Regions from separate parts of the Homo sapiens genome. Here regions 2, 3 and 4 are each linked to region 1. The links come from fine-mapping of genetic effects on gene expression. A gene starts in region 1. Each other region holds a variant in brackets. All regions are shown on one strand. Distances are from middle to middle. Region 1 holds the start of FLT1 (fms related receptor tyrosine kinase 1). Region 2 overlaps FLT1 (fms related receptor tyrosine kinase 1). Region 3 has its middle 55 kb from the start of POMP. Region 4 has its middle 67 kb from the start of POMP.

The links.
Region 2: its variant is fine-mapped to the expression of FLT1 in whole blood (TOPMed, PIP above 0.99).
Region 3: its variant is fine-mapped to the expression of FLT1 in whole blood (INTERVAL, PIP above 0.99).
Region 4: its variant is fine-mapped to the expression of FLT1 in whole blood (TOPMed, PIP above 0.99).

What each region holds. Positions count from the first base shown.
Region 1 is chr13:28,492,241-28,497,393 of GRCh38, reverse strand. FLT1 (fms related receptor tyrosine kinase 1) reads left to right here and starts at 2,266. Exons shown (of 30, transcript NM_002019.4): 1 at 2,266-2,614. The coding sequence starts at 2,551. RefSeq lists silencers at 2,361-2,410, 2,531-2,650, 2,731-2,780.
Region 2 is chr13:28,463,389-28,468,541 of GRCh38, reverse strand. It overlaps FLT1 (fms related receptor tyrosine kinase 1), which reads left to right. Exons shown (of 30, transcript NM_002019.4): 2 at 925-1,021; 3 at 1,413-1,639. Among named protein-coding and RNA genes, the nearest start is that of FLT1, 29 kb to the left of the region's middle. RefSeq lists a silencer at 1,044-1,275. The variant C/A (reference allele first, on the strand shown) is at 2,808.
Region 3 is chr13:28,601,396-28,606,548 of GRCh38, reverse strand. No RefSeq gene overlaps it. Among named protein-coding and RNA genes, the nearest start is that of POMP, 55 kb to the left of the region's middle. The variant T/C (reference allele first, on the strand shown) is at 2,985.
Region 4 is chr13:28,589,215-28,594,367 of GRCh38, reverse strand. No RefSeq gene overlaps it. Among named protein-coding and RNA genes, the nearest start is that of POMP, 67 kb to the left of the region's middle. The variant G/A (reference allele first, on the strand shown) is at 1,926.

The DNA of each region.
Region 1 (5,153 bases):
GTTCTTTGTGAGAACGCTAATGCAACTAACAAAGAAGTCATAGTCAATAAATTGCTGACTCTAATTAAAAGCAACTTTTCAAAAGAGTAGTTGGGAAATGTGGAAGCCCACCCTTACTGCAGCATAGTTTTAATATAAATCTTAGATTCGACTGTGACTCTACTAACCTTAAATAATTGAGCAACATGTTAATATCATTGATTAGCATCTTAGATTATAAAGATTGTTTCAGCTGTCCATCAAATACCTGTTCTGGCTTTACAGACACAATGTAGATTCATTGCTGGCAGCAGGTTTGGAAAGTGTTGTCTCTTTATGAGTTAAAAATATCAAAATGGCATTTGAAAAAATGTATTAGCAAATTAAACCTTTGTACATGGTACTATGGACCACTTTCCCCCAGAGTCAAATGTGTGTCTCTCCTGAGAAGCCCTCCTTGGGTTTTCCCTGCCAATAAATGTGCCTTTACTTCTCTGAGCTGATGGAGGACTAAACACCCCTCCAGCACTGGAATGCCGGTCCTGCAGCCACTTCAAGTGTCCACCTTCTTATCACAGTCCAAGCCCTTTAGAAGGCAAAGATGATGGCTCTCCATCAGTGTTTTCAGCCCTAACCCAATGCCTGGCCCCTGTTGAATGCTGCAGAAGGACAATGCTGACAGCTTCTCCTTGAAAGAGGGTGTGGGAGTGACAAGCAGCTCTCAGGTGAGACCAACAGACACTGTGGCTCCGCACGTATGTCCCAGGCTGTGTTCTGGGCTGGGGGACCAGCAAGGAGAAGGATCAGCTGTCCGCTTCCAGCTGTTCTGAGGGATGATGCTGTGGGTTTTAGAGGAGGCAGGGGTGCGGGAGGCAGAGAAAGGCGCCAGGAAGAGTGGTGAGGAGAACTGGAAAAACAGAAAGCGCTGGTGAAGCCAGCAGGCAAGCAATGACTCCGGCAGTCTTCCTTGCCTCTGAAGCAGAAGGGATCCAGGGACAGTTAGTGGCTCAGGTCCTGCGGCTCCAGGTGCCCAGACGTGCATTTCCTGTGTGGAGTGGCCGGGGCCTCTCCTTGGTGTGCAGCCCAGAAATGTGGCAACTTTGGGTTACCCAACCTTCCTAGGCGGGGAGGTAGTCCAGTCCTTCAGGAAGAGTCTCTGGCTCCGTTCAAGAGCCATCACAGTCCCTTGTATTACATCCCTCTGACGGGTTCCAATAGGACTATTTTTCAAATCTGCGGTATTTACAGAGACAAGACTGGGCTGCTCCGTGCAGCCAGGACGACTTCAGCCTTTGAGGTAATGGAGACATAATTGAGGAACAACGTGGAATTAGTGTCATAGCAAATGATCTAGGGCCTCAAGTTAATTTCAGCCGGTTGTGGTCAGAGTCACTCATCTTGAGTAGCAAGCTGCCACCAGAAAGATTTCTTTTTCGAGCATTTAGGGAATAAAGTTCAAGTGCCCTGCGCTTCCAAGTTGCAGGAGCAGTTTCACGCCTCAGCTTTTTAAAGGTATCATAATGTTATTCCTTGTTTTGCTTCTAGGAAGCAGAAGACTGAGGAAATGACTTGGGCGGGTGCATCAATGCGGCCGAAAAAGACACGGACACGCTCCCCTGGGACCTGAGCTGGTTCGCAGTCTTCCCAAAGGTGCCAAGCAAGCGTCAGTTCCCCTCAGGCGCTCCAGGTTCAGTGCCTTGTGCCGAGGGTCTCCGGTGCCTTCCTAGACTTCTCGGGACAGTCTGAAGGGGTCAGGAGCGGCGGGACAGCGCGGGAAGAGCAGGCAAGGGGAGACAGCCGGACTGCGCCTCAGTCCTCCGTGCCAAGAACACCGTCGCGGAGGCGCGGCCAGCTTCCCTTGGATCGGACTTTCCGCCCCTAGGGCCAGGCGGCGGAGCTTCAGCCTTGTCCCTTCCCCAGTTTCGGGCGGCCCCCAGAGCTGAGTAAGCCGGGTGGAGGGAGTCTGCAAGGATTTCCTGAGCGCGATGGGCAGGAGGAGGGGCAAGGGCAAGAGGGCGCGGAGCAAAGACCCTGAACCTGCCGGGGCCGCGCTCCCGGGCCCGCGTCGCCAGCACCTCCCCACGCGCGCTCGGCCCCGGGCCACCCGCCCTCGTCGGCCCCCGCCCCTCTCCGTAGCCGCAGGGAAGCGAGCCTGGGAGGAAGAAGAGGGTAGGTGGGGAGGCGGATGAGGGGTGGGGGACCCCTTGACGTCACCAGAAGGAGGTGCCGGGGTAGGAAGTGGGCTGGGGAAAGGTTATAAATCGCCCCCGCCCTCGGCTGCTCTTCATCGAGGTCCGCGGGAGGCTCGGAGCGCGCCAGGCGGACACTCCTCTCGGCTCCTCCCCGGCAGCGGCGGCGGCTCGGAGCGGGCTCCGGGGCTCGGGTGCAGCGGCCAGCGGGCGCCTGGCGGCGAGGATTACCCGGGGAAGTGGTTGTCTCCTGGCTGGAGCCGCGAGACGGGCGCTCAGGGCGCGGGGCCGGCGGCGGCGAACGAGAGGACGGACTCTGGCGGCCGGGTCGTTGGCCGCGGGGAGCGCGGGCACCGGGCGAGCAGGCCGCGTCGCGCTCACCATGGTCAGCTACTGGGACACCGGGGTCCTGCTGTGCGCGCTGCTCAGCTGTCTGCTTCTCACAGGTGAGGCGCGGCTGGGGGCCGGGGCCTGAGGCGGGCTGCGATGGGGCGGCCGGAGGGCAGAGCCTCCGAGGCCAGGGCGGGGTGCACGCGGGGAGACGAGGCTGTAGCCCGGAGAAGCTGGCTACGGCGAGAACCTGGGACACTAGTTGCAGCGGGCACGCTTGGGGCCGCTGCGCCCTTTCTCCGAGGGAGCGCCTCGAGGAGTGGCTGGCCTGGACCCGCGAGCATCAGCGCTCAGACCGGGTCCGCGCTGGGGCTGTCCGTTTGCGACAGGATCGCTGATCCCTTATCCAGCTGTCGGGTTGGGGTCTCACTGCCGAGGCCCTGGGCACTAGGAGCAGCACGCACCGGGACCTGCCTGGCACCCAGAGCCCATTCCCAGAGGACCTGGGGCAGGTACGCAGGGTCCCCCGGAGCCGGGAGCAGAGGCTCCTGAAAGCCTGCCAGGCTGCCCGGGGCTGGGCTGAGGCCGGGACTTTGGTGATATTGGGCACTGGCCGCGACCTCGCGTCACGAGAGTGTAGGAGGGGAGCCGATTTGGAGGGGACTCGTGCCTGCGGGGGAGCAGGAGGATCTCAGGAGAGGGCCAGCGCCGGCATCCCATGACCCGCTTGAGTCCCCAAGCCGGACTGTCCCGGGGAACGCTCGGCGAGCGCCCGCTCCTCCCCGCCGCTCTCGGACCGCGGGGCCCCAGTGCGCTGCGCTCAGCCACCCGGGTGGGGCCTCTGCCGGGAGCAGGCGTGGTGCGCGGTCCAGTCCGTGTCGCGGACATCAGTGACCCTGACCCACAAGGGCAGCCCAGGGCCCAAATACCGTTAACTTACTGACTTACAAGCCTAGCCTTTAAAATCCGAGCGAAGAGAGGGCGGGCGATTTTGACCAAACGATGTGGTTTGAGGAATCGATGAGGTCCGCCCGCCACCTAAGTCAGCCTTCGCTGGGCGTTTGGGAGACGGGCGGTGGAACAGTCAGGGGCCGGGGGTTTTACCAGCAGTTAGACCGCCGCCATTGAGGGGTCAAAGCCCCGAGGAACTTGAGGGTTCGGACTCGCAGTCTCTGCTCAGTGGGGCTGAGTGGCGGAGATTTGTGCCTCGTTCCCCTGGGCGCAGAGAGCCAGATTTCGGAGCGCCTTTCTTTTAAGCATCGTGGAGAAAAGGTAAAATATGAAATAAAATATAGTAATATAAAATAAGTCATTGCAATGATTCCCGGGAAGAAAAGTCAATAGGATGGAGCGTAGTACAACAACAACAACAACAAAAAGCTTGTTAAACCCAAAAAGCAGTAATAATTAAATATTCTTTCTCAGTGGGAAGACTAACTAGACCGTCAGTTTCCAAGTAACAAGTAATAGTTCCAATTAGATTGGAGAAACTACTAAACCCGGAGACAGGGCGAAGTGGTAACTTCTGAGAACTCACTGTAGGTTGGGAAAGGTGCTAACATAACTATATTAAATAAAATGTTGTATTTTCTATTTCACAAATACATTTTTTGTTTTGAAAAGTCACTTGTATTAAAATATAATTGCTTAGAGAATTTAAATACCTCACTCGACTATTATGTAAAGATAAATCTAGCTAAATTACATGAATCTAAAATTACGGAGGGAAAAGTACGTGATTTATTAGATTTTCTGCTTCACATAATTATATCTTTATTTTGAAAACATGCTGACTTTAGTGAAGCATCGTTTTCTTTGTAATTGGAAGCATCTTAGATCAGTGGAAACTTTACAGAAATGTGAGTGGGATCCTCTTGTGATTTTTCTTAGATTATAATTTACTTAAATGGGGCAGCAGTTTTGCAACTCTGAATTTCTTTTTTTTTTTTATTTGCACTTTTTTGGGAAGAAAGGACTAACATTGGCAAGCTGAGAACCTCTTTACCTAACAGTTAACAGAACACTCTGTTAGTTCATGTTAGCTCAGTCGGCATCATGGGTGCTTTTGAAAACTCATAGTTTCTCTGTCTGGTTAACAAGCATCTCACAGTAAAACAATCAGCTACCGCCTACTTTACAAACCGCATCAGGGCTTTCATGCTCAACTGAGAGGCTGCATATCCGGGAAGCAATGTCTAGTAAGAAGCCACGGTTCCCCACTGCAGAGTTCTCTTGCGTCATTATGAACCTGGGTCTGCCTTCCTTCAGGTACTATGTAATCTTTGAATACTTATCAGCTATTAATATTCTGTGTGTGTGCATGCCTGGTGTGCACATGCATTGAGAGGTAAAATAACCAGAGGCTCAGTATTACAAAAAGATAATGCCTTTCCCCTCTAAAGCGCTTATTTACCTCTTCCAGACATTCTGGGAAATAAAAAGATGCCAATAATTCAGATACTTTCAAGTCCTCTCTATTGCTCTTTCTCTATAAAGGATACCAGTCCTCTTTCTCCAGCTCTGAGTCTCATTTCTTACTTTTAAGGTATCACAACCTGGATGAAAGCTACAGACCTTTTTCTTTGCCCTCATTTTTCTTGAGTTCTTGAACAGCTAACATTTACAATTTACTATAACTAAGTGGAAATACTGAAA
Region 2 (5,153 bases), 29 kb after region 1:
AGCTATATCAGGCTGGGACTGTGAGAAATGGAAGGTCAGAGATTTCAAGGTCGTCTAGTCCAATCTCTTTTTTACAGATAAGATAACTGAGATCTGGAAAGAGAGATGACTTGTCTAGGGTGATACAGCTAGTCACTAAAATGGATGTCATTATTGCATCATATGGAGATGTGTAGATTTTAAAGCACTTTCACCACCTCACTTTATTGCCTCACAACAATCCTCCGAGATGTTTGTCGAATGTCACGTAAGCGTGTGAACAGTTCCCTTTTGACTGTACCATTGTAGAGGGAACTCATAGATTACGTAAGACAAACCAAATGTCTTCTAAAACTGATTTTGATTCTATAATTAGTTTTCCAAATGAGGAAACTGGTTCAGAAAGGGAAATGATTGGCCAAAAATATCATTGCTCAACTAATGATTGCATGAAATTCAGAGCCCAGGAAAATTTCTGTACTTTTTATTCAGAAAAAAAGATGAGACAGGCCTATAGGACTAGATGACCCACACTGGAAAAAGTTCAGTATTGAAAATATATTTTGGATGACACTGACATTTATTCTTGAGAGTTTTTACTAAGTTATTGCATATTTGAATATTATAACTAGTTATATATTTTAATATAATTTCATTGAACCTATATGAATCCATTACCATTCTACATAAATAGGCTTTTGGATGTTATTTAGGTCATTTGGTATAAAAGGATATATAATATTTATGAGCAAGGGTAGAGCTAGAAAAAATTTGTGAATTAAGAGAAATTTGTATTAGTGTATCTTTTGCTTATAAATTAAAGATACAAGTAAATTAAAGATGTAAATAAATTAAAAATGAAAAACTCACCTTCATGGAAAGATAACTTAAAAAAAGGTAAGAAGACAATTTACAAATAATACATTTTAAAAATTTGTTTTTCAGGATCTAGTTCAGGTTCAAAATTAAAAGATCCTGAACTGAGTTTAAAAGGCACCCAGCACATCATGCAAGCAGGCCAGACACTGCATCTCCAATGCAGGTAAGTGGCTGTGTTGGTTTGGGAATAATCTAGTTGCCATGCCTAAGGCAAAATCATTCCCTGGCAGAGTAAAAAGGTAGGGACCTCAGTGATCTCCTGTGATCTGCAAAGTGCAAACCATAGGCATCCAGCTTCCCATGAAAGGGGATTCATGGGGAAGGGAGAGCATTACTCACTCAGGGAAATGGGGGAAGGGATGCCCAAATAGTTCTGCATCTTTATTCTGAGTATTGTTCTACAGCTTTTCTGAATGTGTTGCTTTCCCGTAAAGAGGAAGATGACTACACTTAAGAGAGGACCTCCGCTTCCTAATAAAATGAATGCTGAGGAACTGGTGCTGAGCCTAGGGCCCAGCCATAAATATGTTTTGTTTTCTTATCTGTGATTGCAGGGGGGAAGCAGCCCATAAATGGTCTTTGCCTGAAATGGTGAGTAAGGAAAGCGAAAGGCTGAGCATAACTAAATCTGCCTGTGGAAGAAATGGCAAACAATTCTGCAGTACTTTAACCTTGAACACAGCTCAAGCAAACCACACTGGCTTCTACAGCTGCAAATATCTAGCTGTACCTACTTCAAAGAAGAAGGAAACAGAATCTGCAATCTATATATTTATTAGTGGTAAGACTTCCATTTTCTACATTCTGTTTGCTTTTGCTTTGCAAATGAGTCATAAATCTACCCTGATCCATTGGAAAGGTTGCTTTCCTAGTGAGTATGAAAGAAACGGGTTAGGAAAGAGATTCCATCCTAGTTGTAGACACTTTCGTGGATGTCAATTTTAACCAGAATTGTCAAGGCCCAGTTAGTCACTATGTGCTCCACAAAGAGAGAGACTGGTCTGTATAGGTCACCTCTGTACCCACAGCTCCTAGCACAGTATGTGGCCCATAGTTGGATGAATAAGTGAATAAAAGGATTTTAGTTCTATTTCTTAGTTATTGAGAAGCCCAAAATAGAATACATGATTTTTGTCATTTAACACAGCTGCATTCTCTTATATGTTGGAACTGTAAAATACTGTTGTTTCTACTAAATTAATAAACGCAATGTTGCTGTTATCTCGAGTGTTATATAACTGGTTCCAATGGACAATGTTGTATTATTTCATGTTCACTGAGGAACTACTATAATGACATGAGAACTGGCACTGACCAAGATACAGTGCAAAGGGCAAAGGGCAAAAATGAATCATGTTTGATTCATTTTTTATGGTACTCGTAAAAAAATCATTTTCATTCATTCATAATTTTTATGATACTGTTCTTCCTTCCTTAGAGAATGAACAAATGAAGTAACATTCAAAGGGGAGAAATGCAAAATCTTTTAAGAAGTAGAAACTCACAGTAAAATTGGAACCCTGAGAAAGAATAATAAAAATGGCCTGTCACTTTCTTCTTCCTTGTTTAGTTCCAATTTTCAAATCTTGAGGGGATTAAAGAAAAAAACGCACACACACAAACAAGGCTGTAGAGAACACAAAGCAATATTAGTAGGCACTTCAGGCACAGAATCAGGTTTAAAAAAAACAAAAGAAAACAACCAACCATCAGCATCAATAGCTAAATATACATTGTGGGTCTACCTTCTGGTGAGGTCAGGAACTGGGTCTTTGCATTGGAGGTAGTACAATAGAACTAACATTTTAGTGAGGCAGTTCTTTTTCGTTGTTGTTTGTTTGTTTTTTTGAGATGGAGTCTTGATCTCTCACCCATGCTGGAGTGCAATGGCAGCTCACTGCAACTTCTGCCTCCCAGGGGCAAGCGATTACTCCTGCCTCAGCCTCCTG[C/A]GTAGCTAGGATTACAGGCGTCTGCCACCACTCCTGGCTAATTTTTGTATTTTTAGTAGAGACTGGGTTTCACCATGTTGGTCAGGCTGGTCTCGAACTCCTGACCTCAGGTGATCCACCTGCCTCGGCCTCCCAAAGTGTTGGGATTACAGGCATGAGCTACCGTGCCTGGCCATGAGATTTTTTTTAATTTGTGAAATAAGGCAACTAGACAGTGTTTTTCCCTGAGCATAACATGTACATATCCAAATTCAGGATTAGTCTTAGGAGACAGCAGAACAGTTGCCTGTTATTGACAGTAACCTCTTTGTAGCTGCTATCAGCCTGATTTTGACTGAGCCACTTTCATGTCCCCGATCCTCCAAATTCTGTTTTGACATTTTGTGCTTGTCCAGGGGGTAGATAACTGTAAGGGACTAACCATCCAAGCAGTTTGCCGTCAAGGGATGCAATCAGCTCACTTCCACATATGAGTGGGAGGTAGGCCGGGGAATTTTGCTTGGGGAAGTCAGCCCACTTCTAAAGCAGGGATGAAAGGATGGTAGGCAGGAATGAGGAAGGGTAGAGAAGGTGCAGCATTAAGAGCAGAGACTTTCAGAGAGGTAATTTTGCAGCTGAGGGGGAAAGACAACACGCTTGATAGTGGTGGAAAAAGCCATGTACTCAGCCATCTGTTCTCTTTCTCTAATTCCACGTAGCATATTGTGTTCTTTCCGACATCTGTGGAGAAAGGAAAACACTGCAGTGAGTCACAGACTGCCCCTGTCTCTATAGGGGAGTGGGAGAAAAATTTATTCATTCTAATATTTTCATAAAACTTTCTCCTATAGGTTTATCAGTCTGACTTGCAAATTGAACACTTAAATGAATAAAAAGAAAACCATCTCTTTTTTTCTAATAAATAGTGTTCAGCTATTTTCACCTTTAACTCCTAAACTATTCAATAGACATCATGGCTTTATGAAGCCAGGGAGTGCAAGCCTCTCCACTCAGTCCCCTACTATCACAAAGGAGAGACACTGCTATTTAGAATTAGTTCCATTTCAACTATACAACAGAGCAGATCTGGCAAACAATCATGACTTTGAGTGTCAAATCCATTGTTAATCTAAGCCCTGTGATGGCACGGTCCATGTCTGTCCTGGTTACTTTTATCTGCAATGTGCCTCCCTGGTACAGTGCCTTGCACATATTAGGAAATCCATAATAATTGCTAAATGAATAAATGAATGGATTAACAGGTGCTTTGTGGAATACTATGTTAAAATTGACATTGAGGATAAATTCCAGGCTTAGTGGGAAAAAGTGCCATGATTGATTATTGATGTCTCTTGTGGGATTGTCGGGGAGCAGTGGCCGTTAGGTCATGTATTTATCATGTCTGCCTTCCTGTAATAGTCCACAACCATTCGCAGAAAATTACAAGTTCCAATATCATAAAACACTTGCATAATTTGTTGGACATTAGGAAATTATCTATCACTTAGATTGTTTTTGGATAAGGAAGGATTGTGAAATGCGTTGTATTTCATAGATTATTATGGAATACACACATATACATACATACATATACTACGAATATTATATGAGCTTGGTGGAAAAATTGTTATGATAATATTATGAGACCACTATTTTTAAATAGCACTGATACTAAAAGATATTGGAATCAATAATGGTAACCATAGAAGAGCCTTCTGAATCTTGTTTGCTAATTAATTTAATCAGCAAATATTTAGGAAACAGTTACTATGAGCCTGTAACTGTACTACTATGAACAGTAACATCTATTTTGTTATTTGTTTCCTGTTAGGGTGATATTGGTCTCATAATCACACCTTATTAAAGTCCAAGGTAGCTGTGATATAATCCATTAAACAATCATAACTTTTCCGAGGAGTCTAATATTTTATGTCTCTCTCTCATTATTTTATTAACTCTCTTTCTGAGAAAATTTGATCTTCTGCTTCCATTGTTACCGAACACTTCCATGACAGGTTTATTTTAGTTCAGGAGCACAAAACTTATCTCTGATGACTCAGAGCATTGTCTCTGGCATTAATAAAACTCCAACCATTTCCTAATATACAGCTGTGATTACTCGCTAGATATTAACTTGGTTATCATGTATTTATTATTGTTGAATATTTACTTTAGAATATGTTTGGGGGATTTCAGCCCCAATAAGCATCTGCAGATTATTGGGATTTCATTTTATTTTTCTCTAAGGATGAGTAACCCTATGTAAACACATCTTTTGAAAAGGTAGATTTGTAGTCTAATAGGGTTTTAAGAAAAAGAATCAGGAGTATAGCTCTGTCTACATGTCACAAAACCCAGCATGTAAAT
Region 3 (5,153 bases), 110 kb before region 1:
CCAATCATTAAGTTTTCAGGAAATTTACCAAGCGGCTGATAAACACATCTGTTACTAAAAATTATACAAACTTACAATTAAATAAATTATATTAAAAATAAAAGTGATAAATGCTCAAAACTCATAATTATTACATGTTTTACTATTTGGTATGCTTTTGAGGTTACTTATGTCTGTTAAATCTGTATGGTGTAAATATTATAGGTGGAATGTTACCACCCATCTCTTCCTCAACCCTATGCTTAGTGGCCTCATGTTTTTCCACCCCCACCAGAGTCAGCTGTTAAACATTCACTAGCACATCACTGCAAAAGACCCTCAGAAGTTTCTTAGGAATAGATTTACTTAAGTTTTCATGGGCCTTGGGGTGCTGTGGGCAGTCCAGCTTGGTGGCCTCTGAGGACAGCTATCCTGAGCAATGTGTGCTGGACCATAATATTGGCCCTTCATTTGCAGCACAATTGTTGTGTATTGGGGCATTATGACATTCTGTGGTTGGAAATATTTCATTATGTAATGAAATAGAAAATAATTCAGAAGAGAGTGTTAACAGCTTTATTAATATATAATTCACAGACCATATAATTCACTCATATAAAGTGTACAATGATTTTTAGTATATTCACAAAGTTGTGCAGCTGACACCACAATCAATTTTAGAACGTGCTCAACACCCTAAAAAGAAACCCTGGGGCTGGGCGCAGTTGCTCACGCCTGTAATCCCAGCACTTTGGGAGGCTGAAGCAGTCGGATCGCCTGAGGTCAGGAGTTTGAGACCAGCCTGGCCAACATGGTGGAACCCTGTTTCTACTAAAAATACAAAAATTGCCAGGCGTGGTAGTGCATGCCTGTAATCCCAGCTACTCAGGAGGCTGAGGCAGGAGAATTGCTTGAACCCAGGAGGCGGAGGTTGCAGTGAGCCGAGACCATGCCATTGCACTGCAGCCTGGGCAACAGAGCGAGACTCCATCTCAAAAAAAAAAAAAAAATAGAAATACCATTTGACCCAGCCATCCCATTACTGGATATATACCCAAAGGATTATAAATCATGCTGCTATAAAGACACATGCACACGTATGTTTATTGTGGCACTATTCACAATAACAAAGACTTGGAACCAACCCAAATGTCCAACAATGATAGATTGGATTAAGAGAATGTGTCACATATGCACCGTGGAATACTATGCAGCCATAAAAAATGATAAGTTCATGTCCTTTGTAGGGACATGGATGAAGCTGGAAACCATCATTCTCAGCAAACTATCGCAAGGACAAAAAACCAAACACCACATGTTCTCACTCATAGGTGGGAATTGAACAATGAGAACACACAGACACAGGAAGGGGAACATCACACACCAGGGCCTGTTGTGTGGTGGGGGTGTGGGGGAGGGATAGCGTTAGGAGATATACCTAATGTTAAATGAAGAGTTAATGGGTGCAGCAAACCAACATGGCACATGTATACATATGTAACAAACCTGCATGTTGTGCACATGTACCCTAAAACTTAAAGTATAATTAAAAAAAAAAAAGAAACCCTGTGCACATTAGCCATCACTCTCCATTTCCCCTTAGTCTTCCCTCTCCTCTCCCCTCCAAGAATGAGGCAACCACTAGTCTTCTTTTGGTCTCCAGAGATTTGTCTATCTGGACATTTAATGTAAATGGCACCATACAATAGATGGCTTTTTCTGACCCACTTCTTAGACATAATATAATGTTTTCAAGGTTCATCCATGTTGCAGCATTTGTCAGTACATACTTCATTCCTTCTTATTGCTGCATAATATTCCCTTGGTTGGATATACTACCTTTTTTTATCCTTTCATCAGTTGATGGATATTTGGATTGTTTCCACTTTTTGACTATTATAAATAAATGCTGCTATGAGTATTCGTGTACAAGATTTTATGTGGGCATAAGTTTTCATTTATGTTGAGTATTCACCTACCGAGGAGTGAAATTGTGGGGGTAATATGCTAACTCTGTGTTTACTATTTGAGGAACTGCAAAATATTTTCCAAAGAGGCTGCACCATTTTACATTTCCACCAGCAATGTACAAGAGTTCCAATCTCTCTACACCCTCACCAATACTTGCTATCTGATTTCTTTATTTTAGGCATCCTAGTGGGTGTGAGATGGTATCTCACTGTGACTTTTATTTGTATTTTCTTAGTGACTAGTAATGTTGAGCATCTTTTCGTGGGCTTATTGGCCATTTGTATATCTTCTTCGGAGAAATTTTCATTCCAATTATTTGCTCATTTTTAAATCGAGTTGTCTTTTTTATTGTTGAGTTGTAACACTTCTGGATTCAAGTTGCTTATGAAATATATGATTTGTAATTATTCTCTCCCACTGTGTGGCTTGTCTTCACTTTCTTGATTGTGTCCTTTGAATCACAAAGGTTTTTAATTTTGATGGAAGTCCAATTTATTTTTGTTGTTGTTGTGCTTTTGGCATTATATATCTAAGAAGGCTTTGCCTAACCCAAGTCCACAAAGACTTACTCCTGTTTTCTTCTAGGAGTTTTGTAGCTTTAGCCCTTAAATTTAGGTCTGTGATATATTTGGGGGAACTTTTGTGTACAGTGTAAGGGAAAGATCCAACTTTATTCTTTTGCATGTGGATATTCAGTTGCCCTAGCACCATTTGTTGAAAATAATATTATTTACAAATTGAATTCTCTTGGCATGGAATAGATTTTGAGGTATTACCTTACTTTTTCACCTGATGCTACCCCTAATTTCTTTAAACATCTATTTATTTCCATTAATCATTTCTGGCCTCATAGCTCAGGCTGCTTGGCCAGGCCTTCCCCTGAGGCACCCATTTTAACACAGACTGGTGTATAGAGCCCAGACCAGAGGCACTCTCTAATCTCCATGTGCATTAGCCAGGGTAGACCAAGTACTGTAACAAACAGCCTCCTACATCTCAGTGGCCCAACACAATCAAAGTTTATTTTTCTCTTA[T/C]CGTAGTCCCATGTGAATCGGTGGGGGAAGGGATGTTCCATGCACGTACTCAGGACTCAGTCTCCTTCCAGCAAGAGGCTCTTCTGTTGCCTAGGGCTTTATAGTCCTCTTTTTTCCCTTAGCTGCTGACCAGACCCAGATGGTCGGGTCTGCTGTCCCCAAGGGCTTATTGTCCTTCACTAGATCTTCTGGATCTGGCCAGTAGTCAAAGAAAGAAAGAGAGAGAACATGGAGGATCTTGCAGGAGTTTTTTTAAGGGCCAGGCTTGGAAGCAGCACACATCGTTCCTAATTCCCCAGGATTCATCATACAGCTCCAACTGGCTGCAAGATAAACTGAAAAATGTCGACTCACTGTATGCTGGGAGGAAGAAGAGACAGGATTTGGTGAACACAGAGCAGTCTCTGCCATAACATCTATATAATCTATTTTAAGAATTGACCCCCAAAAATTATGAGTGTGAATATGTTTGCTCCTAGCTGCTGCAGAAACCCTCCACCTCCAATCTCCCTCCTCCACATTCTGTGACAGGGGAATATCTCTCCAGCAGCTCAGTTGCAGTTTGTGTGAGCCCCCTTGGAAGGCAATTGCTGGTTTGCAGAAAGGCAAAGATCTGTCTGAGCGGAACAGAGAGCAGAACTGCAGCAGAGTCTATGGGAAATCCAGTAGAAAATTCCAGGAGGAGGGAGCTGGTTTCCTGAAACTTTAAGCTTGATGGGACCTGAACAATATATCATGGCAAATCCTTGGGTGTTGAGTATGCTAAGGTTATAGTCTGTATTATGACTTTGGATCTTGTAAATGTCCATTTATTGAATGTCATAAACTGAGGAATTATGAACAAATGAGGCATGAAGACAGAGCGGGTTTCTCCTGTCTGGAAAGAACTCCTAGGATTGTAATTTTGTGGGCCTCTGATTAAACTGTGCTTTTGTTGCATGTCATATGAGACACTGATTTTTCCTTGTCTCTTCTATATTCTTCTGCTGAAGCTGAAGTCCTTTCTACCACTCTGCCATTCACAGGAGTAGAAGCAGCAACTACATGTTTTCCAGAGCCATCATTAAGAAAATGAGAAGGCACCAGGTCTCTCCTACACCATGTGCCGTCCCCAGTAAACTAGCCCCATCCTTTTATCTTTTCCTCATGGAGGCCTCAACTGCTGGTCCCCTTCAGAAGGGCTCCAAGCCCCCTGCACCTCACTCTAAGTCTGGGCCCTAAACTGAACTGATACCCATGTTAGAGGAAACATATTTGTGCATTTCTGAAAGACTCAATTTGCCAACTTTTCAGAAAATCACAGACCCCATCTGTGATTTGCTCCTTCACTAGTGATTTTGAATAATATCATGTGTGGATGGGCGTTTGCTTCCTTCTACTCTGACTGTCCCTTGAAATGTGTCTCAGGCCACACCCTCTACCTGGAACACCCGCTTCACTCCAGAAGCCCCCTCCTACCAATATTCAAATAATTCTAAAATCACGCTTCTCTCACAGAGCCTTTCCCAGTAAACTGGACCAGGATGATGGTTCTCTCCTCCCCCCACCCCCAAAACCCATCCTGTCTGGACCTGCCATGCACGGGTCATTCGTCACACAACCACACCAAAAACTCTTGCACCATTTCTTTATTCATTACATTTACTAATTAATACATTTGTTGTTTGTCTCGGGCTGGTTTGCCCAGTTGTAGCTGTCAGTCTGAATCAGTGAGCTCCATCTGACACTGCAAACTTCTAGAATAAGGGATCCTTTCATTCTTGATTATAGCCACCAATAATCATGTTCTGTTTTTTCTTGGGTTCTGGCCTGTGGTCACACAAAGCATCAGAACTGAAGTGCTGCCTTTAGCTCCCACAATGCATATGGTGACTAAAGGGAAAGAAGGGAAAGTGGAGTGAGCCCAACAGATACTAAGACCATTTATCATGGGCCCCGATTTAAACACAGCACTTTAGGGATTCTTACCTGAAGCCAGTGAGGAACATAGCTTCGTCCTTATTTTCTAGATGAGACTCAGAGAGGTTAAGTAGCTTGCCCAAAATCAAACCCTAAATTCTGGAACCATTATGCAAATCATGTCTGTCTGATTTTCTGTTTCTTGATGCCTCCCTAAGCCCAAGTGACAGGTGTTACTGTTCACCACACTTGCTTAGAATAAAGAGCCTC
Region 4 (5,153 bases), 97 kb before region 1:
TTTCTCTGCCTCTGCTCCAACCCTTGTTTTATTTTTGTTTAATTGCGTACTTTTTTTGTTTTTTGATTAGCCATCCTCACAGGTGTGAGGTTATATTTTATTGTGGTTTTGATTTGCATTTCCCTAATGATTAGTGACGGTGACGCTGAGCATCTTTCATATGCTTGTTGGCCATTTGTATATCATATTTAGATAAATGTCTGTTTGAGTCCTTTGCCCATTTTTTTAATTGAGTTTTTGTTTTTGTTTTTGTTGAGTTGTTGGAATTCTTTATATATTCTGGATCCTAACCCCTTATAACCCCTTATATGAATTGCAAATATGTTCTACCATTCTGTGGGTTATTTTTTCACTCTTTCGATTGTGTCTTTTGATACACAGAAGCTTTTAATTTTGATTAAAATTAATCAATTTTAATTTTGATTAAAAGTCCCATTTGTCTATTTTTCCTTTTGTTGACTGTTCTTTTGGTATCATACTGAGGAAATCCTTGCTAAATCCAATATTGTGAAGCTTTTCCCTTATGCTTTTTTCTACAGTTGTCTTTTTAGCCATTATTAGTGATTATTGCCAAGAACAATGATTTCACCAGAGGTTCCAAAAAATGTGATATTCCAATTTAATCCTTCTTTCTTTATTAGCTGAAATACTTCTGTAAAGATAAATTTCCCTCTTTAACTACTGGGTTGTCCTGAGGCTCATTTTATGCTGGAAACATTTATTTTTTCTTTTTATTTACAAGTTTTCAAAATAATGTGTTGGTTGCCTAGTCATCCTTAAAAGAGGACAAATGAGAGAGTTTTTTGAAGTTTCATTGTGAACTTATACATTTAAGGATTTTAATGTGTTTAATCCACTGCAGTTGTTATTTTTATTGTTCAAACATTTCCATCTTTAGACAGAAGGAGACTTCATGCTGGCTCCTGGATTCTTTTGGCATGGGCCTAAGATTTTTTTTATCGATTCCTTGCTTTCTGTTATTTCAAGGTGTTTTAGACCTATTTAACAATTTGATGTCCTAGACAAAGAATTGACCATTGAGATAATATTTAAGTATAAATAGTAATGAGATTTTAAAATCTAGAATGAGACTACTTTAGTAATCTCAACATCGGCCGGGCGCAGTGGCTCACGCCTGTAATCCTAACATGTTGGGAGGCTGAGGCGGGCAGATCACCTGAGGTCAGGAGTTCAAGACCAGCCTGGCCAACATGGTGAAACCCCATCTCTACTAAAATACAAAAATTAGCTGGGCATGATGGCGGGTGCCTGTAATCCCAGCTACTTGGGAAGCTGAGATAGGAGAATTGCTTGAACCTGGGAGATGGTGGTTGCAGTGAGTCGAGATCACACCACTGCACTCCAGCCTGGGCAGCTAAGCGAGACTCCGTCTCAAAATAATAATAGTAATAATAATCTGGACATTGTGGAATTGGACTGAAGTATCCCAAGATTCTTGAGTATTGAGACTAGCATAATCAGGGCAGTTATGGAAAAACATGAACCGACTTCATGTTTATACCCCCAATGAATTGAAAATTCATAATGGGTTGATACAGACATCCAAGTGGAGAGGTCAAGAAGGCAGTTGGAGGCATAATTTAAAACTTAGTAGGAAGATCCAGGCTGAAAGCACAGATCTGGGAATTATCTTGTTGACTTATCTGTAAGTCTCAGGGATAGTTGAGATGCTCTAGAGAGAAAATGCTGAGGGAAAAGAGAAGCAGGCCAAGGACAGAGCCCTGGGCTACACCAACAGTTAGTCATTTGAGAAGAGGTGGAACCAGTGAAGGGATCCAAATGTTTATTAAGTTAGGCAGAAACCAGGACATCGAGGTGGTCCTGAAACCAAAACAAGAGTATATTTCAAGAAGGAAGTCAATTGTGTCCAAGAGAGAAGCTGAGAGGAAGACCAGAAAATGGCC[G/A]TTGCATTTGGCAAAGTGGAAGTCATCTGTGACTTTGACAGGAAGGGTTGCTGAGGTCAGTGGGGTTGGAGGCATCAGTGGAGTGTTTTGAGGCGGTGGACTGTGTCTTCACGGAGACTTCAAGGTAGTGGGCTCTCAGTTATCCCATGACATCAAGTGGCAGGTCAAGGCATCTCATTACCAAAGATCAGTCTTACACACAGGGAAGGAGAGCTCCATGTGTTCAAGCGGGCAGGCGGGCAGACAAGAGGGCAGCAAACTATGGGGAGATCAGGTCCACTCTTTATCTGCTTTTTTTCAAAACCATGGTTTTAAAAAACACATAACAGAAAACTGGCCATCTTAACCTTTTTTTTTTTTTTTTTTTTGAGATAGGGTCTCACCCTGTCACCCAGGCTGGAGTGCAGTAGTGTCATCTCGGCTCATTGCGACCTCTGCCTCCTGGGTTCAAGTGATTCTCCCACCTCAGCCTCCCGAGTAGCTGGGATTATGGGCATGAGCCACTGTGCCCGGCTATTTTTTTTTTTTTTTGTATTTTTAGTAGAGACGGGGTTTCACTGTGTCAGCCAGGTTGGTTTAACTATTTTTTAAGTTTCCAATTCTGTAGTGTTCATTAAGTATATTCACCTTATTGTGCAATGGATCTCCAGAACTTTTCTTCACTTTGCAAAACTGAAATTCTATACCCATTAAACAAAAACTCCCCATTCCCCCTTCCCCTCAGCCCCTAACAACCCCCATTCTACTTTCTGTCTTGATACATTTCACTACTCCAGGTACCTCACAACTTACCTCCTTATTTAAGAAGTCTGGAAGCCGGCTGCAGTGGCTCACACCTGTAATCCCAGTACTTTGGGAGGCTGAGGCAGGAGATTGCTTGAGGCCAGGAGTTTGAGACCAGCCTGGGCAACAAAGCAAGATCTCATCTCTACAAAAAAAAAAAAAAAAAAAAAAAAAGTTTTTAAATTAGCTGGGTGAGATGGCACCTGCCTATAGTCCCAGCTACTCAGGAGGCTGAAATGGGAGGATTGCTTGAATCCATGAGTTGGAGGCTGCAGCGAGCTATGACCCTGCCACTGCACTCCAGCCTGGGTGACAGTACAAAACCCCATCTCTAAAGAAAAAATAAGAAGCAAACTCAAATCTCAAAGAGCCATGTGTTTGAAGGACTCTGTGAAAGAACAGTTGGACTGTCCAGAGAAAATATAAGTGCAAGCTGCAAAGCCCAGACTGGGAAAGGTCCAGCTAATCAAGAGCAGCATTCTGGGGACTCAGAGATAAAACTGACCACTGAGGGTACCCTATGCTTCCCCAGCCCACGGCTGCGCAAGCCAAGGAGAGCCAGGTAGACTGCGAGAGGAGTAAGAGGCAACATCCCACACAGAGAGGAAGAAGCACCAGCCAGTGGCTGTTGTGAGGCGGCTTCTGCAGCTGCTGGAAAAGGCTCTGCTGAGAGGGCTCAGCTTGACTGGCCTTGCCTTGGAAACAAAGAGCGAAGGGTGAAAGAGAAGCTTAAAGTCCAAAACAAACATTGCACCCATCCTGATGAGGAGCTGGGTATTGCTAGGGCCTGATGGGCCAGCTCGAGGCCACCCTTCTTTTTTGGAATAATGCTCAATCCTCCTCCAGGAAGATGTCTGGGGAGGCCAGATTGGGTGGCTCTTTCAAAAGGGAGCCTGCCGCCACAAACTCAGGCTCATCTCTCAAAAGGCTTATAGAGCATCCGAAGCGAAGACGCCAAATGTTGCAACCAGCTTCTCAGAGTCTCCAGTCCTGGCGCAATAACATGGGGCGACCCAGTCTGAGTTTTCCCGGTTACCGTCTTCAAAGCCAATGCTAAGGGGAGGTAGTGGTAGGAGAACTCACTTGCTCAATCGGCTCACTCATTTGGTAATGCTAATGTGTGCATTTTAGCTGCCATGTCGGCTAACATTCAGTGTTGCAGTGCGGTGTTTCTATTCATGCCTAGTAACTGACCTGGGGCGCAGGAGCCCCAGGCTCTAGTCCCAATCCTGCTACCTATCAGCTGTGTGACTGTGGTCAGGCCACTCAACTTCTCTGAGCCTTGGTAGCAGATCTGTCCCACAGAATTGTTTTATTAAAGAAGATTTATATACCTAACGTTAACTTTTAACCATAAATGATTACCGAAAGTTTAGATTTTATGTTTGATCCTTAAGAATGCATTTTATCAAATTTTAATGAAGTCCTCCAGTGGCTTCCCATTGCCTTCCATTGACCTAAGAGTGTAAGTGATTTGGGGCCTGCCTAACTCTGACTTCATTTCTTACTCTCTTGCTGTCTTCACACACAGACTCTCGCCCCACTGAACTTATTTCTGTTCCATAAGTATTTCAGTGCTGTTCCCACCCCAGGGCTTTGGCCCCTGTTCTCCCTTCTGCCTGGAATCCTTTTCGTCACTCTGGTCCCAACTCAAATATCATTTCATCAGATCCATCAGATCCATCATTGTACGTAATGTTGCCCCCTGACCTCCTTACAATCTCTGTCCCAGTAACTTATTGTGTTTTCTTCATGAAACTATCACCCTCTTATTTCTGTTGGTTTTGCTTATTTATTGTTGTGTTCCCTATGAAAAGGGATATAAAAGCTAGACGTTTGCCTTATTCACTTCTGTCTCTTTCACCTAGAGTGGCACGTGGCTTATGGAGGAGTTTAATAAATATTCATAAGGCCGGGCGGGGTGGCTCAAGCCTGTAATCCCAGCACTTTGGGAGGCTGAGGCGGGCAGATCATGAGGTCAAGAGACTGAGACCAGCCTGGCCAACATGGTGAAACCCCGTCTCTACTAGAAGAAATTAGCCGGGCATGGTGGTGGGCGCCTGTAGTCCCAGCTACTCCAGAGGCTGAGGCAGGAGAATGGCGTGAACCCGGGAGGCGGAGCTTGCAGTGAGCCGAGATTGCGCCCCTGCACTCCAGCCTGGGCTACAGAGCGAGACTTTGTCTCAAAAAAAAAAAAAAAAAGAAAAAAAAAAAATTAGCTGGGCGTGGTCCAGCACCTGTGATCCCAGCTACTCGGGAGGCTGAGGCAAGAGAATCGCTTGAACCTGGGAGGCGGAGGTTGCAGTGAGCCAAGGTCGTGCCACTGCACTCCAGCCTGGCGACAGAATGCGATTCCATCAAAAAAAAAAAAAAAAAATCATAGAACAAAGTAATTACCACTAGGGAAATTCCATCAAAAAAAAAAAAATTCATAGAACAAATTAC